Linked DNA regions of Homo sapiens: regions 1 and 2 are each linked to region 3. The links come from fine-mapping of genetic effects on plasma protein levels. A gene starts in region 3. Each other region holds a variant in brackets. All regions are shown on one strand. Distances are between the middles of the regions.

The links. PIP is the posterior inclusion probability: the model's chance that the variant is causal. The UK Biobank Pharma Proteomics Project read protein levels with antibody pairs (Olink). The fine-mapping took linkage between variants from a reference panel, not from the people measured, so its PIPs are less certain.
Region 1: its variant is fine-mapped to the plasma level of the FLT4 protein (UK Biobank, PIP above 0.99). The variant lies in the coding sequence of FLT4. If it changes the protein, the assay may bind it differently, which can mimic a change of level.
Region 2: its variant is fine-mapped to the plasma level of the FLT4 protein (UK Biobank, PIP above 0.99). The variant lies in the coding sequence of FLT4. If it changes the protein, the assay may bind it differently, which can mimic a change of level.

Annotation. Positions count from the first base shown.
Region 1 is chr5:180,596,392-180,608,798 of GRCh38, reverse strand. FLT4 (fms related receptor tyrosine kinase 4) reads left to right here. Exons shown (of 30, transcript NM_182925.5): 30 at 5,409-7,293. The coding sequence ends at 5,607. Among named protein-coding and RNA genes, the nearest start is that of SCGB3A1, 11 kb to the right of the region's middle. RefSeq lists an enhancer at 5,721-6,221 and a silencer at 11,915-12,086. The variant G/T (reference allele first, on the strand shown) is at 5,486.
Region 2 is chr5:180,619,547-180,622,522 of GRCh38, reverse strand. FLT4 (fms related receptor tyrosine kinase 4) reads left to right here. Exons shown (of 30, transcript NM_182925.5): 13 at 619-981; 14 at 1,271-1,417; 15 at 1,516-1,647; 16 at 1,808-1,914; 17 at 2,215-2,350; 18 at 2,754-2,858. Among named protein-coding and RNA genes, the nearest start is that of FLT4, 29 kb to the left of the region's middle. RefSeq lists an enhancer at 1,493-2,692. The variant C/T (reference allele first, on the strand shown) is at 882.
Region 3 is chr5:180,644,140-180,656,546 of GRCh38, reverse strand. It overlaps FLT4 (fms related receptor tyrosine kinase 4), which reads left to right and starts at 6,947. Exons shown (of 30, transcript NM_182925.5): 1 at 6,947-7,059. The coding sequence starts at 7,002. RefSeq lists an enhancer at 10,383-11,048.

The DNA.
Region 1 (12,407 bases), 48 kb after region 3:
CACCGCGGGAGCCCCTCCCTGTCACATGCTGGCCACGTGGGCGCTGGTCCCGACACCTCCCTGTCATCTGACAGAGCTCAGATGCTGTGTCTTTCTGACACCACACGTAACCCACCATGCCCAGGGCACACACACTCTCCTCCAGGTTGGGGAGGCCACCCCAGCCCCAGAACCCCGGAACTTCACCCAGTGGCTCCAGAAGCCGGGTAGATACTGTAATCTGAACTGGCTGGTGTAGGGTCCGGCCCTGTGGGGCTTAGCGGGTGTTCTCCCCGTGTGTGGAGATAAGAGATCGTAAGAAAGAAAGACACAAGACAGAGATAAAGAGAAAACAGCTGGGCCTGGGGGACCCCTACCATCAAGACGTGGAGACCGGTAGTGGCCCCGAATGGCTGAGCACGCTGATATTTATTGCATGCAAGACAAGGGGGCAGGGTCAGGAGGGTGAGTCGTTCAAGTGATTGATAAGGTGAAGCAAGTCACATGATCATGGGACGGGGCCCTTCCCTCTTAGGTAGCTGAAGCAGAGAGAGAGAAGGCAGCATACGTCAGCATTTTCTTCTCTGCACTTATAAGAAAGATCAAAGACTTTAAGACTTTCGCTATTTCTTCTACTGCTATCTACTACAAACTTCAAAGAGGAACCAGGAGGACAAGAGGAGCATGAAAGTGGACAAGGAGTGTGACCACTGAAGCACCACAGGGAGGGGTTAGGCCTCCGGATGACTGCGGGCAGGCCTGGATAATATCCAGCCTCCCACAAGAAGCTGGTGGAGCAGAGTGTTCCCTGACTCCTCCAAGGAAAGGGAGACGCCCTTTCATGGTCTGCTGAGTAACAGGTGCCTTCCCAGACACTGGCGTTACTGCTTGACCAAAGAGCCCTCAAGCGGCCCTTATGCCAGCGTGACAGAGGGCTCACCTCTTGCCTTCTAGGTCACTTCTCACAATGTCCCTTCAGCACCTGACCCTGTGCCCACCAGTTATTCCTTGGTAATATGAGTAATACATCAAAGAGTAGTATTAAAAGCTAATTAATCATGTTTATACTAATGACTGATAATGTCCATGATCATCTCTCTATCTAATTTGTATTATGACTATTCTTATTCTATTTTCTTTATTTTATATATATATATGTATGTATGTATTTTTTTTTTTTTGAGACAGTCTCGCTCTGTCTCCCAGGCTAGAGTGCAGTGGTGCGATCTCTGCTCGCTGCAACCTCCGCCTCCTGGGTTCACGCCATTCTCCTGCCTCAGCCTTCCGAGTAGCTGGGACTACAGGCACCCGCCACCACGCCCGGCTAATTGTTTTGTATTTTTTTTAGTAGAGACCGGGTTTCGCCATGTTAGCCAGGATGGTCTCGATCTCCTGACCTCGTGATCCGCCCGCCCTCGGCCTCCCAAAGTGCTGGGATTACAGGCCTGAGCCACCGCGCCCGGCCACTGTTTTCTTTATTATACTGAAACAGTTTGTGCCTTCAGTCTCTTGCCTCAGCACCTGGGTGATCCTTCGCCCACAGGCTGGGATGTATTTTGGCAACAGAGAAATACCCACATATCCCAGATAGAAAGTGAACTCCATTTGCCCAACATGACAGCCAGGGGAAAAACAGTTTTGGCCATTTTGAATGTTGAAACTTTTAAGGGTATAGATTTAAACAAAGACTTCAGTGTCTGCTTAAAAGATTCATTTTATTTTTATTTTTATTTTTATTTTTTGAGACAGAGTCTCACTCCGTCACCCAGGCTAGAGTGCAGTGGTGCGATCTCGGCTCACCGCAACCTCCACCTCCCGGGTTCACGTGATTATCCTGCCTCAGCCTCTTGAGTAGCTGGGATTATAGGCGTGTGCCACCACGCCCAGCTAAGTTTGTTTGTTTGTTTTTTTTTTTTTTTTTTTTTTAGTAGAGACGGGGTTTCGCCACGTTGGCCAGGCTGGTCTTGAACTCCTGGCCTCAAGTGATCTGCCCTCAGCCTCCCAGGGTGCTGGGATTACAGGTATGAGCCACCACGCCCAGCTCATCAGGTGACTCCTGTTAGTACCTGGTTTTGGAAAATCAATGGTGGTCACATTTACGGAAATAGCTTTGGGCTAATTTTTCGTCACCAAACAGCATTTCGACATTCAAAAAACAAGGTAATTAAGTAAAAGGTGTCACAGAGAATGATCGCCACGTAAATTCAAACCTCTACACACCTTCGAGAAACAGCACAGCTCCTTGAGATCAAAGAAGGCCGCTCAGCCCAGGCCTGTGGCTCAGCTAGGAGACAGACTCCGTGGAAACGTGAGTTGGGGACTCAACGCCAGGACCCGCACGGCTGAGCCTGCACCATGGTGGGAGAGTCAGATAGGGCCGTCCCGTGAGAGGAGAGTGTGACGAGGTCCTTGGGGATGTGGCAACACAGACCCAGGGGTGACGGAGGAGATGGGGCTGCGAGGAGAGCTCCCTTGCCAAGCCCGAGGCACTGGGCAGCCATCTTGCTTCTGAAAGGGCGGCGAGCCAGAAGGGAGTGCAGCCCCTTGGATGCTTGGTGGTAGAGGAAGAAGAAAGTTCCAGAAGACATGGGTCCTAAGGAAGCAAGATAGTATCCAGAAGTCAGAAGAAGACACATGATGGATTTGTTCATTTGAGAAACTGCACCACCCTGTATCGGCAGCAGAGGGCACTGTTCTTTGTCCTCTGTCGACAATGAGCCAAGAAAAGGTGCCACAGGTCTCTGGCGGGTGCATCCGCTTGGCATACAGAATGCTGTGCAAACAGGTGCAAGGAGAGAATGTGCCTTGGTGGGGTGTGGGGAGAAGAAGGAGGAATCTATCTGCCTAGTCCTTCGCTGTCTCCTGTTAACCACTGGTCGGCACTCGCCCCATGGGGGTTCACCTCCTCACTCCTGGGTTACATCATCCAGCCCCTTCAGTACCCACTTAGGATGCCAGAGCCCGTACCTATAGATGTGGCTTTTCACCTGCATCTGTGGGTGGAAGGAGATCAGGAAACTGGGCTTGTGGTCACTCAGCATGGCTGCGTGCAGCCAGTGGAGGGCCTAGCTCTTCTGGGTAAGAGACTAGCTGGCCCCTGGTGGCAGGATGATACGGGACGTGTATGAGCCTTCAGAAGGAAGAATGTGCTCAAAGGAACTTGAGATGCCAAAGATATGGGTTTGAGGTGGCACTTTTAAGTGAAGAAATGTAGGATGCCACCAAAATCCCTAGTCCCATCCACAGGAGAAGTGGCTATTTCTGGTGTAGGAAATCCTAACATGAATAATCCTGAACCCCCAAAAAAGCACCCTCCATACAAAGTTATAGGAATAAGACAGTATTAGAGTTAAAACTTCCCGGTAGACAATTGTTCAAAAGAAACAGGAAAACGAGCAAAATGCTCCAACATGAATTAAACATATAAGGAAACAAGCAGTGGCTTGTTTTGTTGAATCTGAAATTCAAAATTTCAGGATAGAAATGGACGGACAATGTGATGATACAACTGACAGCAGACTAAATTCAGGAAAGAAATCGAAATAAAAGATAGATTCGGCCAGGCAGTAGCTCTCACCTGTAATCACAGCACACTGGGAGGCTGAGGCAGGAGGATCACTTGAGGCCCGGAGTTCAAGACCAACCTGGGCAACAGAATGAGACGCTGTCTCTACAAATAGTAATTTTAAAAATTAGCTGGGTGTGGTGGCCCATGCCTGTGGTAGCAGCCGCTCAGCAGGCTGAGGTGGGAGAGTTGCTTGAGCCCAGAAGGTCGAGGATGCAGTGAGCCATGATCGTGCCACTGCACTCCAGGCTGGGCAACACAGCAAGCCCCCATTTTGGGGGAAAAAAACCCGATAAATCTTTTCTAAAACCAGGGCACCACAGGGACAATATGTATGAGCAGACTGATAGTGCCAGACACAGAGGATGGACGTGAAAAGAGGAAAACAAAACTGAAAAGAGGCAAAAGGATCAGAAAGTGACAGGAATAGAAAAGAGACAATATATATAAAATTGGGAGTCCCAGAGGAAGAAAATGCAAACAGTAAAAGAACTAATATTTTAAACTTACAGTCAAGAGTTTTCAGTAGCACCATGCAAAGCACCAAACAAGAAGTCAACATCTTCAAAAAATGCAAAGAAAGTGAGCGCTTGAGGATGGTGCATGATAGGGCAGGCAGAGAGGAGGGCAGGGGCAGAAACCACCCCCTAGGTCAAGGCGAGAGGCCTGGATTTGCTTCGTGGAGTGACGGGAAGCCGTTGGAGGGCGTGTCAGGAGGAGAATGACATAGTGTAACTTGAAGGACCTCTCTGAAGGGTGGACCACCAGGAGGCCAGGGTGGAAGCACACAGCAGTCCGCGGGAGGATGTCACAGAGCCGGCAAGGACACAGCTGGCTCCGCAGGAGGGCCAGGAATGGAGATGCACGGATGTGTCCTGGAGTTAGAATGGACAGGACTTCTGGATGGATTGGCTTTGAAGAGTGAGGGGAAGGAGGAAGCAAGGAGAACCCCAGGGTGCTTGGCTTGAGCGGCTGAGGGGACGGTGGTGCCGTTCACTGAGATGGGCAAGACAGAGTGAGAACTGGGTTGGGGGATGAAGTTGGACATTCTTCACAGTCTCGGGTCCAGGCTAGGTAGGGACAGAGCTCCAGTGAGTGCTGGATCAGATCGATCCGCTTTGCTGTTTGAGTCGAGTCTGTGTGTGTTTTCTGAAGTCTGAACGCATGCCATGCTCCACTGTGTCCTTGGTGGTTCCCATCAGACCCTGACAGGGCTCCAGTCCCTCCTTGTTTTTTGTTAGTTTGTTTTTGAGACAGGGTCTCACTTTGTCACCCAGGCTGGAGTGCAGCGGCACGATCTTGGCTCACTGAAACCTCCACCTCCTGGGCTCAAGCAATTTTTTTTTTTTTTAAGATGGAGTCTCACTCTGTCGCCCAGGCTGGAGTGCAGTGGTGCGATCTCAGCTCACTGCAAGCTCCGCCTCCCGGGTTCACGCCATTCTCCTGCCTCAGCCTCCCGAGTAGCTGGGACTACAGGCGCCCGCCACCACGCCCGGCTAATGTTTTGTATTTTTAGTAGAGACGGGGTTTCACCGTGTTAGCCAGGATGGTCTCGATCTCCTGACCTCGTGATCCGCCCGCCTCGGTCTCCCAGCAAAGTGCTGGGATTACAGGCATGAGCCACCGCACCCGGCCTCAAGCAATTGTTTCACTTAGCTGGGACCGCAGGCGTGCACCACCATGCCTGGCTAATTTTTGTATTTTTTGTAGAGACGGGGTTTCCCCATGTTGCCTGGGCTGGACTCTAACTCCTGGCCTGAAGCCATCCGCCTGCCTAGGCCTCCCAAGTACTGGGATTACCAGTATGCACCACCCGCCACCCAGCCTTCTTCTCTTACTAACACCACCTTCCCTGTCTTGGCAGCTGTAAAGGACCTGGCCAGAATGTGGCTGTGACCAGGGCACACCCTGACTCCCAAGGGAGGCGGCGGCGGCCTGAGC[G/T]GGGGGCCCGAGGAGGCCAGGTGTTTTACAACAGCGAGTATGGGGAGCTGTCGGAGCCAAGCGAGGAGGACCACTGCTCCCCGTCTGCCCGCGTGACTTTCTTCACAGACAACAGCTACTAAGCAGCATCGGACAAGACCCCCAGCACTTGGGGGTTCAGGCCCGGCAGGGCGGGCAGAGGGCTGGAGGCCCAGGCTGGGAACTCATCTGGTTGAACTCTGGTGGCACAGGAGTGTCCTCTTCCCTCTCTGCAGACTTCCCAGCTAGGAAGAGCAGGACTCCAGGCCCAAGGCTCCCGGAATTCCGTCACCACGACTGGCCAGGGCCACGCTCCAGCTGCCCCGGCCCCTCCCCCTGAGATTCAGATGTCATTTAGTTCAGCATCCGCAGGTGCTGGTCCCGGGGCCAGCACTTCCATGGGAATGTCTCTTTGGCGACCTCCTTTCATCACACTGGGTGGTGGCCTGGTCCCTGTTTTCCCACGAGGAATCTGTGGGTCTGGGAGTCACACAGTGTTGGAGGTTAAGGCATACGAGAGCAGAGGTCTCCCAAACGCCCTTTCCTCCTCAGGCACACAGCTACTCTCCCCACGAGGGCTGGCTGGCCTCACCCACCCCTGCACAGTTGAAGGGAGGGGCTGTGTTTCCATCTCAAAGAAGGCATTTGCAGGGTCCTCTTCTGGGCCTGACCAAACAGCCAACTAGCCCCTGGGGTGGCCACCAGTATGACAGTATTATACGCTGGCAACACAGAGGCAGCCCGCACACCTGCGCCTGGGTGTTGAGAGCCATCCTGCAAGTCTTTTTCAACAGAACTTCACAGACTGTTAGAGCTGCTGAGAAGAATTTGCTTTCCGAATTCAGCCTGGAAGGCGCCCAGGGACAGCTGTACTGAGTCTAGATGACTCTGACCCCCGCCCCAGGTCAAGGCCAGCAGAGCAGTCAGTGCCTCTGGAGAAGGCCCTTGCTCTCCCACCTGGCCCAGACTCCGAGGAGCCTGGGTCTGGAGCTGCCGGTCTGGTTCTTCCCTTTAGAGCCCGGATCTGCCACCTGCGGCCCCTCCCAAGCCGTGAACCAGCTCATGAGAGATGAACACTGTGGGATCCACTCAGGAAGGCTCGGGGCTGGCACAAAGGACCACCCAGCATTGCCCTGTGCCACCCAGCACTCAGTGGACATTCTGGGGACCTGCCTTCAGCCTTTTCCTGCCCTGTGCCTGACATCAGCACCCTGGCTGGTCAGAATGCCGCCCTCCCAGAGGAGCAGCCGAGAGATCCCCTGAAGGCTGGAGGCATTCTGCTCAGGACCCCTATCCCAGCTCACAGTGCCCAACCATCTCACCAGGAGAAAGAGCCACATCCCCACGTTAGGACCACGGAGACTGACCACCACCCTGACCCCCCAAACCCACGCACCAGACGCTTGCAGGACAGGCGCCGCGCAGCGGGCAGGGGCTTGCCCGGCCGACCCTCCCCTCCCCACCTCCCCCACTGCGCGTTACTCCAGGATATGCCGAGTGCACGTATAAGGTCATCTTCGTCGTCCCCGTGGACCTCCCCCTTCCTCTGCACGTCGTCCAACGTGGGACTGGCGTGTCAGGCTTCCCTGGGAGGATCTGGAGGTTGTTCTCTGCAGAGAACCAGCCTGGCTCCTGGCGCGCACCTCTGCTCCCTTCTCCTCACTACCCACCCACGCATGTACCGGGAAAAAAACTACTATGCCCTTCTAGACCATGTTCTGAGAAAAGATCGAAAATATTTAACAAGAGATAATAATAAATCTGATGCCGGTCTTTGTGTGTGTTGCGGACGGGAGTGTTGCTTTTATTGTTTTTGCTTCCGTAATAAATCTAAATGGGAATACAGAACAGCCCCCACATTGGGCTTTTTTTTTTTTTTTTTTTTTTTTTTGAGACAGTTTTGCTCTTTCCCCCAGGCTGGAGTTCAGTGGCGCGATCTCGGCTCACTGGAACCTCCGTCTTCAAGCAATTCTTCTGCCTCAGCCTCCTGAGTAGCTGGGATTACAGGCACCTGCCACCACGCCCAGCTAATTTTTGTATTTTTAGTAGAGACGGGGTTTCACCATGTTGGCCAGGCTGGGCTCGAACTCCCGGCCTCAGCCTCCCAAAAGTGCTGGAATTACAGGTGTGAGCCACCGCGCCCGGCCGCTTTTTTTTTGTTTTGGTTGGTTGGTTGGTTTGTAGAAATGAGGTCTCACTGTATTGCCCAGGCTGGGTTTGGATATTTTAGCTTTCCATTATAATTGACTGAATTTAGTCACTGACCTTGACATATGTGCCAACCCAGGTGTCCACCAACAGGGTGTCCCCCCGTGCCCAGGGCTGAGCGGCTCTCCAAGCCCAAAGTATGCCCCTGTGTGTTGGGAACTGAAACACCTCTGTGCTCCCATCCCGTACCATTTCCCAGCAGGGCTGCGCTCACACTTCCGGGCTCCTCTGGAACTTCCTGGGTTGGACCTTAAGGGCTGGGCTCAAGTGTCCCTGCAGGTCCCAGCCACCCTTTCACACCCCAGAGCACCACTCACTCCAGGAGTGGCTGTGTGGATGGAGACAGCCAGCGAGCGGGGAGGGAGGAGTCACACCAGGCTACAGCGTGCTCGCACTGCGAGGGCCCCTTGGTCCCTTCTGCCTCCCAAGAACCTTCTCACCTTCTCCTCTCAGGCTCCAGCCCTTCTCTGGGTGCCACCGCCCGCCTATGCCTCCCCACCTCCACCCCAGCCCTTCACTCTATTCATTTCTGCCAAGAGCCCTTCGTCACCTGCTTGGGGGAGGTTTGGGGCCCAGGACATGCCCGAATGTCCTTTGATGCTGTTGATTCTATGCTGACGTCCCCAGTGCCTCTCGGTGTGCTCAGGCCCTGGCGTTTGCATCCAGCAGGCAGAGCTCCCGGGTGGCTGCTCAAAGCCACACGTGGTCCTAGGCCCTGGAGTTGGAACTCACAAACCGCAGCCCCTGCTGTGAGGAGTGAAGAAGAGCAAAGAGGAAGACCAGAAGGACAGGCGAGGGAGGGAAGTGGGATGTGGGACAGGAGGCCACAGGGGACCTAGGGCCTGGGAGTCCAGAGTTGGGCCTGTTTCTTATTTTAAGGCTAGACGGGCATTCTGAGAAGGGCTGACGTCTTTCACCGAGAAGGAGGGATCTTGAAGGAGCTTGGCGGGGTCTGCAGGGGTGCTGGCAGGCTAGGAGATCAGAGGGACCCCCGGGAGGGCCCTACACAGCTCCCGCCCTAGATGCTCATTATGCTTGGGAGGAGGGAACCCAAAAAGCAGCTTCCAGCACCAACACCGGCTCCCTCCCTCTCATTTCCCCTGACCCCATCCTCACCCCATTACCACTCCCAGGCCACTCCACCCCAGTGGGCCCAAATCAACTTTTTTTTTTTTTTGAGACGAAGTTTCACTCTGTCACCCAGGCTGGAGTGCAGTGGTGCAATCATAGCTCACTGCAGCCTCAACCTCCCGTGCTCACATGATCCTCTCGCCTCGGCCTCCTGAGTAGCTGGGACTACGGGGCTCACTGTGCCTAGCTTCCAGGTAGACTCTTGAAGCTGTGTGCTTAGCCCAGATAATCAGCCACAGTGTCCAAGGTGCTGGCCAGTCCCCAGGTCACTGGGGCCATCTCCAGCCCTGATCTCTGCATGTGGATTCAGGGAGGGGACCATAGCATCACTGAGCGGGGACTGCCTTTGTGCCTTTGGCAACCACCAAATGAGGCCTGGGTCTCCTCTGCCACTGGGCAGAGAGCCTGGGACAGGCTGGGCTCTGAGGGCTCCTCAGGGCTGGGAGCGGAGGATGGGGTATGAGATGTGGCACCCTGCAGCTGGTGAGCCTGAGCCCAGCACCTCCCCTCGGAGCCTCAGTTTCTCATTCATGACTGCCACCTTGTAGAGCTTTGGTGATAAAAGTCATAAGGCCCCAGTGGTGCTGGGGGTGACCACACCCAGGTAAAAGCCCCCTTCCGACCAAGTGGTGTGAACAGGGGCCTATGAGCCCCCCTTGACTCACCCACCCACCCATGCACCAGCTAACACGTGCTCCCACCCGTCCCCCATATGCCCGATGGACTGAAGGTTTGTGTCCTCCTGAAATGTACATGTTGAAACCCTACTCCCAGTGTGATGGCGTTAGGAGGTGGGGCCCTTGGGAGGTGAGCAGGTCATGAGGGTGGAGCCCCTGGGAATGGGATTAGTGTCCTTACAAGAGGAGGCCAGAGAGCTCCGTAGCCCTCTTTCCACCGTGTGAGAAGTCAGCTGTCAGGAAACCAGGAAGCCCCTCACCAGACCCCCGATCTGCCTGCGCCTTGATCTTGGCCTTCCCAGCTTCCAGGACTGTAAGAAAGAAATGTGAGCCCAGCCTCAAAGCGCTGTGCACAGGGGAAATGCATCCCTCCTGAGGGCAAACTGGGCGGTGTCTGAGGTCAGCAAGCGCCCCCACACTCCCCCCACCCTTGTTCTGCTCTGGAGGAGTAACTGGCTGCAGCCACCACCGCGAGGAGAGGGGACCGTTTCCCCTTCCTGGGCCCAGTGGGGGACACCACCTTCCCCTCAGGGGCGCATCCAAAGAGGGAAGCAGAAACTCCTAAACTTTCCACCCGAGCCACGAGTGGCCAAGGGTGCCATAAAGCTGATGGTGGGCCGGGAGGCTAGAGGATGTGGGGGCTGAACTAGGGCTTGATGGGGAGCCCAGAGCGGCCACAGAGAGAGAGGATTAAGGGATTTGGAACACGCCTGGGGGCAGCATCCTTGGCAGCCTGGGCTGCCCCTCTGTGGCACACAGGGGTGGAGTCAGCCGGGCAGCTCCCAGGGTCCCGCCCATCCCTGGCTGCTCTGAGGCACTGCCAGGAGCTCCATCACAGCTGGCTTGTGGGCAGCAGGGCCACACAGGACTGCCCGGCCCTGGAAGGAGGCAGCTCCCCTGAGAAGGACATGGCCTCCCCTAGGGACAGCCGGGTACCTGGAAGTCATCAGCCAGTCTCCACGGAGAGGCAGCAGTAACGGAAGGGAACGCTCGGAAGGGGCCTTGCTTTGGGACGGCAGCAAGTGCATCTCTGCCATGGTGGGATCTTGGCCTGGAGTCTGGGCTGGGGCCTCCCCTGGGTCTGACCCCCCAACTCTCACCCCTGCCTGGCTGCTCCCAGCCCTGGCACGTGGAGGCAGCACAGGACGCTGTGCCTTCCGGGTCAATGGGCGTGTGAAGAGCATGGCCTGGGCACCGTGCAGACCCATCTCAGACTGCCAGGGGACTGCAGGCCGGTCACTGACGTTCTCTGAGCTGTGTTTCTTCTAAATCGTGAGGGTGATAATGCCCGTCTCACCCCAGTGCCATTCCACGCAGGAAACCACTTCAGTCCCTGGACACGGTGGGGCTCTGGGGACTGAAGTGCTTTCCTCAATGGAATGGTATTGGGGTGGGGAGGACAGGGAGTGCTGCTGGGCACACAGAGGTGTGGAGCCCTGCCCAGGGTCACCTCCTGAATCCCTGCCAGCACCCCTTCCTCAGCCTCCTTCCTCACTGAACAGACTGAAGCAGGGAAGTGGGACCTAATGAGACACGATGTTTCCTCTGCTGCTGCTGCTGTGGCCAGCACGGTCCTTGGAGCAGTGGGGTGAAGCCTCACGGGAGGGCCCTGGGGATAGCACCAGCGCTTGTGTGCCTGGGCCCAAATTGGTATCGGAGGTTTGGCACTGCTGGCTGCCAGCCTGTCACTCCAAGGAGGACAACTCTAAAAAATGGGAGCTGAGAGGCCGGGCGCGGTGGCTCACGCCTGTAATCCCAGCACTTTGGGAGGCCGAGGCAGGCAGATCACGAGGTCAGGAGATCGAGACCATCCTGGCTAACACGATGAAACCCTGGCTGTACTGAAAATACAAAAATTAGGCGGGCATGGTGTCGGGCGCCTGTAATCCCAGCTACTCAGAAGGCTGAGGCAGGAGAATCGCTTGAACTTGGGGTCAGAGGTTGCAGTGAGCCGAGATTGCACCACTGCACTCCACCTTGGGCAACAGAGCAAGACTCCATCTCAAAAAAAAAAAAAGGAGCTGAGAGATGGCAGGGAAGAATGAGGTATGAGGTCCTGGTGACATCCTTTGAGCCTGGATCAACCTTTCCCTGAAGGCGGAGCCACTCCTGGAATTTCAGTCTTTGCTTAAAGCCACGTGGGTCAGCTTTTCTGTCACTTTCACCAATGCCCTGAACCCACAAGGCAGGAACCACATCGACAGCACCTGCTCCCCTCCGCACAGCAGGGCCCTGTGGGTGGGAGTGCCGACAGGGAAGGGGCAAAAGGAAGTGGCTGAGAGCCAGATCAATATTGACCCAGGGACGGTGCCACAGAGGGCGCTCGGATATGCTCACGACACTGCCCAGTGCCCGAGGGCCCACGGGGCTGAGCTATGAGGAAAGAGGACGCGGGCTGAGGAGGGGGTGCTGAGCGCCCCAGGGCCCACGGGGCCGAGCCATGAGGAGGGAGGACGGGGGCTGAGGAGGGGGTGCTGAGCGCCCCAGGGCCCACGGGGCCGAGCCAAACCACTTCCTACTGGCGCAGGAGAAAGCCCAGAGTGCCTGCTGGGACTGGCCGAGGTGCCTGTCCTTGTGGGGCCCACTCAGGGCGGTGTGGAGGGTCGCTGCTGCTGGCCGCTGTGGTGGCCCTGGCCAGGAGCCCCCACAAGTCCCTTGAAAAAGGGTCCCAGGACCATCGGGAAACTCAGGGTGCCGGCTGACACCACCAGGGCTGCCCACCGGTCCCCACCTTCGAGTAGGAAAGTTTGCTCAGAAGGAGTGAGGAAGGGGGCCTCGGGGCCGGGGTCCAGCGCCTGCGGCCTTTGGCTCTAGACATAAAAAGAAGAGCAGCTTCTATTGGAACAGCACCACAGACCCCTCCCAAAGCCCCAGATCATTCTAGCATG
Region 2 (2,976 bases), 29 kb after region 3:
CTGGGGCTCCTCCCTCAAGGATGCCCTTGGCTCACTGCAGCTCCTCCTAGCTATACCCACTCCCACCCTCCCCTTCCCAAGCCCTGAGACCTTGTGACTCGTGTGAATTTTGCTCTGGGGAGAAGCTCTGTGGTTTACTCAGATTTTCAAATGTGGTAGTGACCTCAGGAGAGCGGAGCCCAGGAGCAGACGTCACTGGGTCCCAGAATGTAGATCAGGGCACCAGCAGAGAGATGTAGATCAGGGCACCAGCAGAGAGATGGAGCCCAAAAGAACACCCGGGGGCTGGGGGGCCACAGGAGCCTGACCAGAAGTGACCAGAGAGACAAGAGGAAGTGGGCGCACGGCACTGGGAAAAGCCAGGGAACACGTTATTTCAGGCTGAGCATGGGGTGGGGCATGGCAAGCTTCAAGAGAGAATGAGGACTCAAGTCCCACTGAGGGTGACAAGGAACTCCTGATGACCTGGGCTTTTGGTGGGGCGGGGGGCAAGCAGTCCAGCTGGGGCCCCTCCAGGAGAGAGGGAGGGAGGGAGGCAGGAGGAGACCCCGGGGCGGCAGGTGGATGGGGGAGCAAACTCCCAGGGCAGTGCCACAGGGCTTCTTCCTCCCTCCACAGCCATCCCCGACGGCTTCACCATCGAATCCAAGCCATCCGAGGAGCTACTAGAGGGCCAGCCGGTGCTCCTGAGCTGCCAAGCCGACAGCTACAAGTACGAGCATCTGCGCTGGTACCGCCTCAACCTGTCCACGCTGCACGATGCGCACGGGAACCCGCTTCTGCTCGACTGCAAGAACGTGCATCTGTTCGCCACCCCTCTGGCCGCCAGCCTGGAGGAGGTGGCACCTGGGGCGCGCCACGCCACGCTCAGCCTGAGTATC[C/T]CCCGCGTCGCGCCCGAGCACGAGGGCCACTATGTGTGCGAAGTGCAAGACCGGCGCAGCCATGACAAGCACTGCCACAAGAAGTACCTGTCGGTGCAGGGTGAGGCTGGCCGCGGGGAGGGCGGGGACGCGCTCTCTTCTAGCAGTAGCTGCCTCTGCCTTTGCCCCGGCGTGGCTCGCCCCTGGGAGGTCTATTCACAGCCCTGGCCTGCAGGAGCTACCCCTCCTGACTATCCGCCGCCCCCTGCGGAGGCGCGCCGCGCTCCTGCCCGGCGCACAACCCCTAAGTCCAGCTTCCAGGGATCCTTTTCTACCTCTGCTCCCAGCCCAAAGAGGGTCCTCCTGCTAAGTGCAGCTCCACTTAGCTCCCTCTCGACCCCTGCCCCCAGCCCTGGAAGCCCCTCGGCTCACGCAGAACTTGACCGACCTCCTGGTGAACGTGAGCGACTCGCTGGAGATGCAGTGCTTGGTGGCCGGAGCGCACGCGCCCAGCATCGTGTGGTACAAAGACGAGAGGCTGCTGGAGGAAAAGTCTGGTAGGGAGGGTGGCCCTGGCGAAGGGCAGGTCCGGAGGCCCGCGAGGCCGACGATCCCAAACCCAGGTGGACCCGCACCTCCACCCCACCCCCTGCAGGAGTCGACTTGGCGGACTCCAACCAGAAGCTGAGCATCCAGCGCGTGCGCGAGGAGGATGCGGGACGCTATCTGTGCAGCGTGTGCAACGCCAAGGGCTGCGTCAACTCCTCCGCCAGCGTGGCCGTGGAAGGTCTGGCCTCAGGCTGCACCCCTCAACTCCCTTCCCGTCCCCAGTTAACGCTTTCTTGTGGCCACCTTGGGCAAGTCGTGGCCACCAGAAGGGGTGCTGCCTGCAGGTGCACGCTCTTACACACACACACACACACGCCGGCCCCTTTCTGCCCACGCAGGCTCCGAGGATAAGGGCAGCATGGAGATCGTGATCCTTGTCGGTACCGGCGTCATCGCTGTCTTCTTCTGGGTCCTCCTCCTCCTCATCTTCTGTAACATGAGGAGGGTGAGTGTCCCTCCCCGCTCCTGATGGAGTCTCTCTCAGGCCTTCCCCACCCTGGCCGCCCCTAAGATAAAGAATAAGGTGCCCGCCCTAGTTCACCTGGCAGCCTTGTTTCCTGGGAAGCCTCCCTGCCCTTCACGCTGGGCTCCAACCCCGCAGAGGTTGTCTGTCTTTTTTTCTGTCCCCTCCTTGACTGAGAACCCCGCAGGAAGTGCCATCTGTCCTGGGCAAAGTTCTGCCCAAGCCACAGTGGTATGGCCAAATCAGTGAGCTGCCCCACTCCTCCCTGTCCCCTCCCCGCAGCCGGCCCACGCAGACATCAAGACGGGCTACCTGTCCATCATCATGGACCCCGGGGAGGTGCCTCTGGAGGAGCAATGCGAATACCTGTCCTACGATGCCAGCCAGTGGGAATTCCCCCGAGAGCGGCTGCACCTGGGTGAGGCCAGCACCAGCCTGCCCAACCCACACCTCCTGCCCGACCCACCTGCTGCAGGCCGGAGTGCCTGAATCCCTCCATTTTCAAAACTTGCACCAGGAAGTTCCGCCTGGCCTGACCTGTCCCTGTGGGCGTGGGTACCTAGAACCTCAGCCAGGGTCCCCAGTTCCCAGGCTCCCTGAGGTCACCTGCTGCCACCCTGAGCAGGGTGTATCTGTCACACCTACCCGGGAGGATGCGCGGCCTCCTGTCCACCTCTCCTTGTCTTCCCGCTGTGGCTCCCCACGCTCCTCCTGCTGCCAGGCCTGTCCTCCTGGACCTCTGCACGGGGCTCCCCCGCCGCCCACCTGTCTCCACGCTCACCCCGTACAGCTCACCTGCAACTGGCCCCCTGCCCCGACAGGGAGAGTGCTCGGCTACGGCGCCTTCGGGAAGGTGGTGGAAGCCTCCGCTTTCGGCATCCACAAGGGCAGCAGCTGTGACACCGTGGCCGTGAAAATGCTGAAAGGTGTGGGGTCAGCGGGCGGAAGGGGCAGCCTAGCTGGTGAGGAGCAGCAGCTCGGGGTGGGCCGGTGGGACGGCAACTCGGGAAGGGAGACTGAGGCTGGAAGCCAGTCTCATCCGAG
Region 3 (12,407 bases):
AGTCTCGCTCTGTTGCCCAGGCTGGAGTGCAGTGGCCTCCCAGGTTCAAGCAATTCTCTTGCCTCAGCCTCCTGAGTAGCTGGGATTACAGGCACATGCCATCACGCCCAGCTAATTTTTTGTATCTTTAGTAGAAACGGGGTTTCATCATGTTGGCCAGGCTGGTCTCGAACTCCTGACCTCATGATCCGCCCGCCTCAACCTCCCAAAGTGCTGGGATTACAGACATGAGCCACCGCCTCTGGCCAGAATACATATTCTTTTTTTTTTTTTTTTTTTTTTTTGAGACAGAGTCTCGCTTTGTCGCCCAGACTGGAGTGCAGTGGCGCGATCTCAGCTCAGTGCAAGCTCTGCCTCCTGGGTTCAAGCAATTCTCCTGCCTCAGCCTCCTGAGTAGCTGGGACTACAGGCGCCTGCCACCACGCCCTATTTTTTTTTTTTTTTTTTTGTATTTTTAGTAGAGACGGGGTTTCACCGAATACACATTCTTCTTATCAGCCCATAGAATATTCTCCAGGATACACCATATCTTAGGCCACAAAACAAGTGTCAACAAATTCTAGCAAATTGAAATCAGATCAAGTATCTTTGCTGACCACACTGGAATAAAACTAGAAAATCAGTAAGAAGAGAATTTTGGAAACTGTACAAATATGTGGAAATTAGACGTGTTCCTGAATGGTCAAAGGAGAAATTAAGAGGGTAATTTAAAATTTTACTGAAACACACCAAAACCTAAGGTTGCCGCAAAAGCAGTACTAAGAGGGAAGTTTATAACAATAAGCTCCTACATCAAAAAAATAGAAAAATTTCAAATAAACAACCTAAAAGTACACCTCAAAAAAACAAGAGCAAACCAGACCCAAAATTAGTAAAAAGGAAAGACATAATAAAGATCAGAGCAAAAATAAACAAAATAGAGACAATTTTTTAAAAGATCAACGAAACAAAGTTTTCTTTTGACAAGATAAATGAAACTGACAAACCATTAGCTAGACTAATTTAAGAAATACAGACGAGGCTGGGCGCAGTGGCTCACGCCTGTAATCCCAGCAATTTGGGAGGCCAAGGCGGGCGAATCACCTGAGGTCGGGAGTTCGAGACCAGCCTGACCAACATGGAGAAACCCCATCTTTATGAAAAATACAAAATTAGCCGGGTGTGGTGGTGCGTGCCTGTGATCCCAGCTACTCACGAGGCTGAGGCAGGAGAATCACTTGAACCCGGGAGGCAGAGGTTGCGGTGAACCAAGATCGCGCCACTGCACTCCAGCCTGGGCAACAAGAGCGAAACTCTGTCTCAAAAAAAAAAGTACATTCTTTCAGTCCTTCCACGTTCTTCTGCCTGCTTTGTTCTAGCCGTGCTGGCAGTTGATTAGATGGTGCTCACCCAGACTGAGGGTGGGTCTGCCTCTCCCAGCCCACTGACTCAAATGTTCATCTCCTTTGGCAACACCCTCAGACACGCCCAGGAACAATACTTTGCATCCTTCAATCCAATCAAGTTGACACTCAATATTAACCATCATATATATTAAAAATAAAAACGAAGAGATATTCCATGTTTATGGATTAAAAGAAAGTTGGTTTGCCCCAAATTGGTCATAGGCTAATTGTAACTCTAATCAAAATCCCAGCATATCATGTATGTGTGGAAGCTGATTAAAAATAAGTCTAAAATTTAAATGAAAATTCAACTTGTGAAAAATTCCAAAGTCACTTTTGAGGAACAGGTTGGAAGGACTTACGCTTCCAGATATGTAGATTTTTATATAACTAAGATAATGAAGATATGGTACTATTGAAACCGACTCAATAGTCCCATAGATAGTTTTTTTGGATAAATGTAGAAATGGACGCTTCTGGTCTTAAAGCTTGAACCTTAAGTTTGTTTTAGCTGAGTTCCTTCCTCAGGAAACAACCTTCAGTCCTCTAAAAAAATAAAAAAATAAAGTATCAAAGAACTGAGAATCGCCAGATCTCCACATCCAGACAATGATGCTGGACCGTTCATTCATCATGACTGCTTCCTTGCCCCTCCTTAGTTTTTGTTTTGTTACACATTGTTTCATTTCTTCCTTGCTATGTAAAGCCCTGGTTTTAGTTGGTCAGGGAGATGGATTTGTCAGCCACAGCACCTGATTAAAACGTTCCTCCTTGACAATACTTGTCTCCTCTGTCATTGGCTTTCTGTATGGTGGGCGGCCGGACCTAGACGGAACCTGTGATGTTTTGGTGACAGTATCAGTACAAAAATAGACAAAGCTGAGAAAATGAACCATTCCGTGTAGATCGTTAATGTATGACTGAGGGGGAGCTAGAGAAAAGTGTAGAAAGCATGACCTTCTCATCATGGTCATGAGATAGCAAGATACCTTTTTTTTTTTTTTTTTTGAGACGGACTCTCACTCCGTGACCCAGGCTGGAGTGCAGTGGTGCAATCTCTGCTCACTGCAAGCTCCGCCTCCCAGGTTCACGCCATCCTCCTGCCTCAGCCTCCCGAGTAGCTGGGACTACAGGCCTCCGCCACCACACCTAGCTAACTTTTTTGTATTTTTTGGTAGAGACGGGGTTTCACCATGTTCGCTAGGATGGTCTCGATCTCCTGACCTCGTGATCTGCCCACCTCGGCCTCCCAGAGTGCTGGGATTACAGGCGTGAGCCACAGCGCCCGGCCAGTAGCAAGATATCTTTACGGGGTGAAAGACAGAAACTCGACACATGCACCTACTTTACGCTACACAGAGAAGGCAATTCCAGGGCCCGCAGGTCTAAATATGAAAGAGAAAATAAAACATTAAAATTTATAAGTGATAAAAAATAGTAAATATCTTCATGACATCAAGATAAAGGTTTCTTTAAAAGAACACAAGGCCGGGCGCAGTGGCTCACGCCTGTAATCCCAGCACTTTGGGAGGCCGAGGTGGGCGGATCACCTGAGGTCAAGAGTTCATGACCAGCCTGGCCAACATGACGAAACCCCATCTCTACTAAAAATACAAAATTTAGCCAGGCATGGTGGCACACGCATGTAGTCCCAGCTACTCGGGAGGCTGAGGCAGGAGAATCGCTTGAACCCGGGAGGCGGAGGTTGCAGTGAACCGAGATCTTGCCACTGCACTCCAGCCTGGGCAACAGAGCACGGCTCCATCGCAAACAAAAAATAATAGTAATAAAATAATGAGATAACACAAGTAACACCAGCCATAAGGAAACCAATTTGTAAGCGTGCTGTGTTAAAATGAAAATCTTCTGTCTTCATCCTGCCTCCCAAAAAGAGAGCATTACGGAAGTGAAAATTCAGACCCCGAATGAGAGGAGATGTGTAGCACAATGTACCCAAGTTCCTTTTCCACAGATGGCCTTGGCAGTGTCTGCCATCCCACATGCTCTTCTGCATGTGACCTTGCCTCTCTCTAATAATTGTGGGGAACATGTCCCCTAGGCAGGCTGTGACTTCTTCGAGACTATCTAGTTTCCACCTAGTTCTCTTGGATAGTCACTCTGGGGAAGCCACCTGCTACACAAGAACTTCAACTAATGTGGGATTGTCATGCTGGAAAGACACCGAATGGGCGCACTGGTTGGCAGCCCCAGCTGAGCTTCTGGACAACAGCCAGCACCGACCACCAGGCATCCAACCCAGCTAAGTAAGCCCTTGTCAAATTCCTGACTCTCAAAAGCATGAGCAAAACGAAATAGCTGCTGCTTTGCCCCACAACATCTTGGAGTACTTCATTATACAGCAATAATAAAGGAACTGATAAAAGACTCATATGCAGAATATATAAAGAACTACAAATCAATAAGAAAAAGACAGATGGGGAGTCGTAAAGAGCAAAAGACTTGAAATCTAAATGGCCAATTATAAAAATGTGCTCAACCGCAATGGTAATTAAGGAAAAGCTAATAGATCAGGCATGGTGGCTCACCTCCGTTAATCCCAGCACTTCGGGTGACTGAGGCGGGTGGATTACCCGAGGTCAGGAGTTTGAGGCCAGCATGGCTAACATGGTGAAATCCCGTCTCCACTAAAAATACAAAAATTAGCTGGGCATGGTGGCGTATGCCTGTAATCCCAGCTTCTCCAGGGGCTGAGGCAGGAGAATTGCTTGAACCTGGGAGGTGGAAGTTGCAGCGAGCCAGGATCGCGCCATTGCACTCCAGCCTGGGAACAGAGCAAGGCTCTGTCTCAAAAAAAAAAAAAAAAAAAAAAAATAGCTAATGAAACCGCAATGAGATGCCAATGCAAACCAACTAGAATGGCCACATTTTAAAAACCAAAACTGACAATACTGTGGGTAAAGGTGTGCGGCAGCGGTAACTGCTTACGCTGCCATGATCATGCAAAATGGTACAAATCACTTGAAAAAATACTTGGCACTGGCTACCAAAGTTGAAGACAGCATGTGTACACCAGGAAACACATACAAGAGTGTTGTGGCAAAAGTTGGAAACTGGTAACCACTCAAACTTCCATTAATAGTAGATGGACAAATTGTGGTGTATCCTACTGTGGAAAACTATGCAGTTACGAAAATGAGCAAAGTATAGATCATCACAGCAATATAGATGAATCTCACTAATGGTGTTGAGCAAAAGAATATAAATGGTATGAAGGCACTGAGATAAAGTGGAAAAAAAAAACAACAAGCAAAATGTGAGCTAAACTGTAGGGACACAAACACACAGAGAGGAGTAATAGACACTGGAGACTCCAAAAGCAGGGAGGGAGGGCAAGAGGTAAGGACTGAAAAATCACCTTTTGGGTAGAGTGTCCACTGTACAGGTGACGCGTACACTAAAAGCCCAGACTTCACCTGTACACAATATATGAATTAAGAAATCTGCACTTATGTCCTCTAAGTATACTTTAAAATTTTAAAAGCACATTCTGGCTGGATGCGGCGGCTCATCCCTGTCATCCCAGCATTCTGGGAGGCTGAGGCAGGTGGATCACTTGAGCCCAGGAGTTCAAGACCAGCTTGGGCAACGTGGCGAAAACCCAGCTATGCAAAAAAGTCACTGGGTGTGGTGGCGCACATCTGTGGTCCCAGCTACTTGGGAGGCTGAGGTGGGAGGATCATTTGAGCCCGGGGGGTGCTGAGGCTGCGGTGAGCAGATATCATGTCACTGCACTCCAGCCTGGGTGACAAAGTGAGACCCTGTCTAAAACAACAACAACAACAAAAAAAAAACAAGTATATTCTGGGCGGGGCACAGTGGCTCATGCCTATAATCCCAGCACTTTGGGAGGCTGAGGTTGGCAGATCAGGAAGTCAGGAGTTTGAGACCAGCCTGGTCAACATGGTTAAACCCCCATCTCTACTAAAAATACAAAAATTAGCCGGGCATGGTGCCGGGTGCCTGGAATCACAGCTACTCAGGAGGCTGAGGCGGGAGAATTGCTTGACCCCAGGAGGCAGAGGTTGCATTGCAGTGCAGTGAGATCGTCCCACTGCACTCCAGCCTGGGCAACAAAAGAGAGACTTTGAGAAAAAAAAAAAAAAGTACATTCTGAAAAAAAAAGCAAAACATATATTTTGATGATAAAATGATAAACAAAAGCAGGGAAATGATAATGCCAGGGTAGTGGGCATCTTCTGGGGTTGGTGAGGGGTTTGTGATGGGAAGTGAGGGGATGTGGGGATGTCATTCTACATCCCTTGGCCTGGAGAATGGAAACACAGGTATTTGTTGCTTTAAAATTCAGGTTTATAATATGCTGATATATTATGTACTTTCCATAAGTGTGTTACATCTCATAATCTTTCAAAGCTAAAAAAAATCAATATATGATTGATAAATACCTAACTTCATGTATCGCTTGGTTACCTAGTTTCCCCAACCTTATTTGTTAAATTATCTACACTATCCGCACTGATTTGTGATTCCAGCTTAATAATATAGCCACTTCTTACCTGGATTGGAGAGAGCTGGTAGTGGTTATTGAAAATCTACTCTTGCTTTTTGGCGAGGATGAAAGGGCTTTGGGGGGCGGGGGTGGGGGGATGGAAAATGTGAATGAAACGAAAAGCAGGGAAGGAGGTTGAGACAGTCATGGTCATGGGCTTCATTATTAAACAGGAAAATTCTAGAGACAAACTGAAAAGAGAACGGAAGTCTGTAAGAGGGTTGCCAAGTCAGAAAGCAAAAGCAAAGTGTCGCTTTATTAAAAAGGTGGGGGCGGGTCCTGATTGAGCTGAGAACAAAACATCTGGGGGAGTTCTAAAGCTAGGAGGCCAGGCCTGCAGGGAGGGGGTCGGTCATCCCGGGTGTCCCGCTCACGGGTGCGGCTTCCGTCGACACTGTCCGTCGACACTGTGCAGGTAAACACTGCTGAACGGGTTTTGTTTTTGCTTTTTTTTTTTTTTTTTTGGCTCCCAGACTGGAGTGCAGTGGCGCGATCTCGGCTCACTGCAACCTCCTTCTCCCGGGTTCAAGCGATTCTCCTGCCTCAGCCCCCCCGAGAAGCTGGGATTACAGGCGCGCACAACCAAGCTCGGCGTATTATTTTATTTATTTGCTTGTTTATTTTTGAGACTGGGTCTCCCTATGTTACGCCGGCTGGTGCCACTATTTTCAAAGATGTAACATACTATTTTTACAAGGATTGCTTTCTTGTTTAGTCTAGATTTTACCGATGGAAAGAAAGGACGGAAAAGAGCGCGTGCCGCATTTTGCTCCCCTTTGCCCACCAGGCTCCATCACCTCCGGAGCGCATCGCGAGACCGTCTGCGTTACCCGCGTCCCCGCGCCCGGAGCCGCCCAGGAGGGGGCCCGGACCCTGTGGTGCGGAGCGCGCACTGCTCGGGTGCACCGGACGCCCCGCGGCGGGCTGGGAGGGACGGGGGGAGGGGGGCGCGGGGAGCGGCCTGAATCCCGGGCCCGCCTCCGGCCCCCGCCCCGCCCCGCCCCGCCCCAGGCCAGCCGGCGCCCGCGCGGACACTTTCAGCCCCGAGCCGCGGCCGCTCGGGTCGGACCCACGCGCAGCGGCCGGAGATGCAGCGGGGCGCCGCGCTGTGCCTGCGACTGTGGCTCTGCCTGGGACTCCTGGACGGTGAGCGCGGCGAACGGGCCACCCGCCCGAGCGTGGGGCTGGCCGGGGAGGGGGTACCGCGCACCTGGGGCGGGCGCTGAGACCGCTCCGCCGGGTACGGGCGGGGGACACGGTGGCCCTGGTGCGCGGACGCCTGAGGGGAGCACGGCGCTTGGGGCGCGGGACCTCGGGATGAGGAAGGGGCGGGCGGGGACCGCAGCCGGGTCAGGGCCAGGGCGGCCGGGCCGCGCCTCGGCGCAGGGGTAGCTCTCCCGGCCCCTGAATCCGCGTCTCCGTCGGTGGCTCCGCGTCCTCGGAGCCGGGCCCTGCCGGGCTGCGCGCTGAGCCCGGATCCTTCGCGCCCTTACTCGCTTCCCCGCGGGGTCCCCGCGCCGCGCCGTCCCGACCCACGCGCGCCGGAGATCCATCCCGGCCGGGCCCCGGACTTGGGTGCGCACTTCCCGACGCCCAGCGCCTCCGCTCGCGGTCGGTCCCCCAGAGGGCGCTCGAGGCGGGCTTCCCCCTCCCCGTGGCCGGCGACGGCGGGGACAGGGGCCGGGGACCACCGCGCGCCCGAGGCGGACGGGTGCAGGTGCACGCTGGCACTTGAGACGAATCTTGAGGAGGCGAATCGCGGGCTGTCAGCGCCGCAGAAGGGGCGGAAGGCCAGGGGTCCCCGGATTTGAGGGGACAGGGGCCTCGAAGGCCAGCTGAGGAGCAGAGGCCCCCGCGGGAGGGTCCCCTGCACAGGAGAGGCGGGGTTCGGTTTGTGTTGGGATGTGGCTCTGGCGGGGAGAGACGCAGACCTGAAGCGGAGGCGGAGGGGTTGGAAAGAGGGACTGTGGGGGATGAGCGGGCGGCAGAGGGAGTGGATGGAGATGTCAGGGAGGAAGCTGAGAAGATGAGCTGGGAGTCCCCACGGAGCTGGTGTCCCTGGAAATCAAAGGGTGTAAGGGCGGGGTCAGGGGTTCCAGTGTCTGAAGCCCTGAAGTCAGCGACGGGGACCTCAACATTTCTGCACGCCATAGGAATTAAATACTGGCTTTACATGCTTGTAATTCTCACAGGGAGTGTCAGACCCATTTTACACATGGAGAAGCTTAGACCAAGGACATGTGTCACTTCCCCAAGGTCCCCAGGAGGCCCAAAGTAAGCCTGACAAAGCCTGCCTTTGCTCACCACCTGTATGTCCACTGGCTGAAGGGCAGAGGACAGGAGAGGGGGCAGGTCTGGCTCAACCAGGGGAGGAGGGAGGAGAACATCTATCTGGGCCTCCGAGTCGGGCAGGCCAGATCAGGGCGCTGCCCTTGGCCCTCCTGGACCCAGCCCAGGACCAGGCTCCCACAGGTGCTCAGGATGTATTTGTCGAGTGGCTGGTAGACCTTGGTTGGACTGCAGGGCTGTAGAATGGGAGACGCTTATCCTGGAGGAGACATGGGACAGGCACCTGGGCGCAGTGTCTGAGCTGGGCTGAGTAGCTGGAGAGGAAGAGAGAGACCCGGGAGGGGAACCCTGGAGGAGGGGCCCAGAGGGCAAGGGGGCTTCCAGGGATCCAGGGAACATTCTGCAGGTATAAGGAGAACCAGGAGAGGCCAGTGTCCTGGTGCTCCCGGGTGGAGCACAGAGGGACGTGGGGTGAAGGGTGAGGAAGCTATTCCCTGCAGTAAGTAGTGACTCTTAGTGACCCAGTTATGAAGAGGAGAGAGGGCATTAGTTGGGCGCCCCATGGAGAGGGGTGTCCTGGGCTGGACCTGGGTTTGGCTGGTGGGGAGATGGCAATGAAGACAGAGGTCATCCCTCCGTGAGCCCTGCACCTTGCTGTACCCCCTGCTAGGCTGAAGACCCCGGGAGCCCCCAGCTTGATGGGGGATGCCATGGCGGAAGCACAAGCCCTCAGCTGCAGTCGGGTGTCAGGGCAGCTGGTCCGGTGGGAGCTGCAGTCGGGTGTCAGGGCAGCTGGTCCGGTGGGAGCAGGCCAGAAGCCTGAGCATCCTGAAGCTGACCCCTTAAAAGTGTGCTATTGATCATAGAACCAGACTCTTGTCCTGCCTCTGCCGTAAAGTCCTTTCTGTGTGACCTGGGCCCCCTCCTTTCCCCTCCCTGCACCTCAGTTTCCCCAAGCATAGCCATGGCACAAGCATAGCCATGGCACAAGCATAGCCATGGCACAAGCTGGCAAGCCCCGAGGTTGTGTGGGTTGTGTGTGCTTGGGCTGGACTCCAAGACCCAGATGCCTGCTGCAGTTCCACAGTCTTGCCCCAGTGGAGAGGGTAGGTCACAGATGTCTCTTGGGGCTTAGTCTAGAGAGAGGCCATTGGCACCTCTGCACTGTGGCTACCAGCTCAGGGACATGCAGGAGCAGGGTCTGCTGGGCATCTGGAGTGGCCTGGTCTCAGGACGTTTGCCCTTGCTGTGACCTGGGTCACAAAGGCCCAGATGTGGACAGATGTGTGGCCCAGGGATGCAAGTCACTGCAGGCAGGATGTGGGGATCAGGCCCACTTTACTTGGGCCTGGGGACCTTCTGCTCCAGCTCAGGGCTCTGAGGACTCGAATGCAGGTGCTGTTCCCTCATCCACCAGGCCTATGGCACAGAGCCAGTGTGGCTGAAGGAGTCCTGAGCCCTCCCAGAGCATAGGGCCCACATGGCTGGGCCCAGACAGGGTACGAGGTGTGATGTGTGGTCTGTCTGGCGAATTCTTCACTGTAACCCCCAGCAGTGGCACCCCGACCCAGGGAAGGAGCCTGCAGTTCTATGCAAGACCCCAGCATAGTGCCTGTTCGGGGTGGCCCAGGGAGGACTTGGACCTGGCCCCATCGCACAGGGGTTTCCTGTGCCTTGCAGGGACACAGACATGCCATCAGACGTGTATTGCCCAGGGATGAAAGTGTTCAGGGGCCCTGGTGAGGCCCAGCTGGTGGCTGTAAGCTGCACAGGAAGGCAGTGTCACTTCCAGCTAAGGGCTTCCTGGTGGGGTCTGCAGAACTCCAGGACAGGGAATTCCAAGCAGAGCAAAGAACCCCATGAAGCCCCAGAGACAGGCAAGTCCAGATGGTGAATGTGGCCAAGTGGGTGGTCCGGTGAGGCTGGAGTCTGGGAGGAGTGGATGGGAGGTAGGGGAAACGAGGCTGGAGATGCGGCAGTGCCAGCAGCAAGGAGGCTGGTGTCCAGGGGAGACAGGAACTGCAAGTGGATAACCCAGGGGATAAACTGGGGTGGAGGCAGGTAGCAGCTGGGGATGGTGGGGACAGAGGAAGTCCCAGGTCTCTGGCTTCAAGGATAATTTATCAAAGGGAGACCCTGGGAGAGGAGCAGGACCTTGGGTGGAGGTAGGCAATGGGATTTCCTCGGAGACCTCAGCTGATGCACCCGGCCAGATAAGGAGGGAGGAAAGTTGGGAGCACTTGAGTATGATGGGACAGAGGGGAATGGGGGAACCAGGGAAATTAAGCGAATCAGCTGCAAGGGGAGGTGCTTCTCTGTGTCTGGCTTACTCCCCTCCTGCTGCCGTATTTTCCTCCACAGGGCAGTTTTCTCTCCACCAAGGCCTAGCCTGTGCCCCACGTCCCTCTGAGATGCCCCTCGGAGTTGGGGGTGGGCAGGGAGAGGGGTCTGGAGAGCCTCTCACACCCCCTAGACTCTGAGCAAGATTCAGTCAGTGTGTCCAGCTGGAGCCAGGGATTCCTGAGTTTCGATCCTTTTCAGACACTGGCTTCCTCTGGAATCTGGGTTTTCCGGTCACACTGAGGAGACAGGTCTGGGAGCAGGAAGATGCGGGCATTCATTCCCGGAGGAGGAGCAGGGCGCCAGCCCTGGCCGGGCTGGACGGGGTAACAGCAGGCACACCCCCGGCCCTGTCTGAGGCCCGCACCACCCTAGCCCACGGCCAGGCCTGGGTAGATCCAGGTGGTGAGTAGGGGAGGCCCGCCACGTGGCCGGCGAGGTCAGCAGGGGTTCATGGGAAAGGACTTGTCGGCCACAGGAGAGGACATCCTGCCTGCATTTCCCTCTTCCTGCGGCAGGAGCTGGTGGCCCCGATTTAGCAGCACTGGGGGGCCACCTCTGCGCCAGCTGGGTTGTCTGATAACGCCGCTCGTCCTGCCGGCCAGCAAGCAGAGCCTTGACCCCACGGAAGCCGGGGAAACTGCCTGGCATAGCTGGCTGCCCCACGGCGGCCGTGTGCTGGGAGCTTAGCATCTGCTCAGGCCCCCTCCTCCTGGTCTCCACCCCCACGGGGCACTCAGGCAGCCCACGCTCCCCGCAGGTCCAGCCCTTCTCAACCTCATCACCACTCCCTGTTTCCAGCATCTTCCAGAAATTTGTCTCCATTCTGCCCCAAAGGGACTGCTGTAAATGAGCCTTCAGGGCCCCCCCCAACTCACCCACAAGATAAGCACCAGCTTCTTGGGCTCGTGGTACCGGCCCTTCCTGCTGGAGTCCCAGGCCATCCCTAGCCCCGCGTCCACCCAGCCTCCACCCACTGCACACACCAGCCCCAGCACCATGGCCTTTCGCCCACCCTGGACGTGCCCTTTGGGAGACTGCTGGGAACTCCGGGCAGACGGTGCTGCTCCAAGCGGAAGGGGCCTTCCGGGGCAGGTGATGGCTTCGTTCCCGCTCACAGTGTGCCTCAGACTTTCAGGTGGGTTTAGGGGAAGCCCCCATCATCACCCAACTCAACACACTGTCCTCGAAGCTACTCTAAATTCTACCAAATGGAGATTGATTTGTTTTAAGCAGCAAGCGTGCACCGGCACATGCACACAGATGTGGCGTGTCCGGCAGTGGGCCACACCTCCGTGTGAAATGGTTTCTCAGATTGCTTCACAGCAGGGCACGTACAGGTTTTAACCTCGTCACGCAGACCTTATTATGCTTATTTTGGAGATTAGGAAATTCAGGCCACAAGGGTGAAACGGCTCTCTAGATAATAGATGGCTCATTTCAGGGGGTTAATAGGTGTCTGACATCTGGTTCCAAATAGCATGGGGGCCAAGCGGGAAAGAAGGGGCAGGCACACAGGCCACTGTCCACATTCCCCAGGGAATGCCCTAGAGGGCTGGCCAGGTGGACTCTTCAATTTCTAACCACCTCATGGCCATTTTTACTTTGCTGTCCCAGAGACCTTTACAAAGCAGCATGTTGCAGACATTTCCCCCAGGTCCACCACACGCCCGGCGTGCCCCTCCGTGCACAGCCTCTCCACCCTCCCGGTACCCTGTGCCCTCTTTCCGCTCACGCCTACACCTGCCCACACATACTATGGCTTCTTTTGGTCCCTTGGATCCTCAAAACCAGCCATGGGTAAATTGCTGGCTAAGTCCAATCCTGGGAATATGCCACGACGAAAAGACACACAGAAGCCCTTG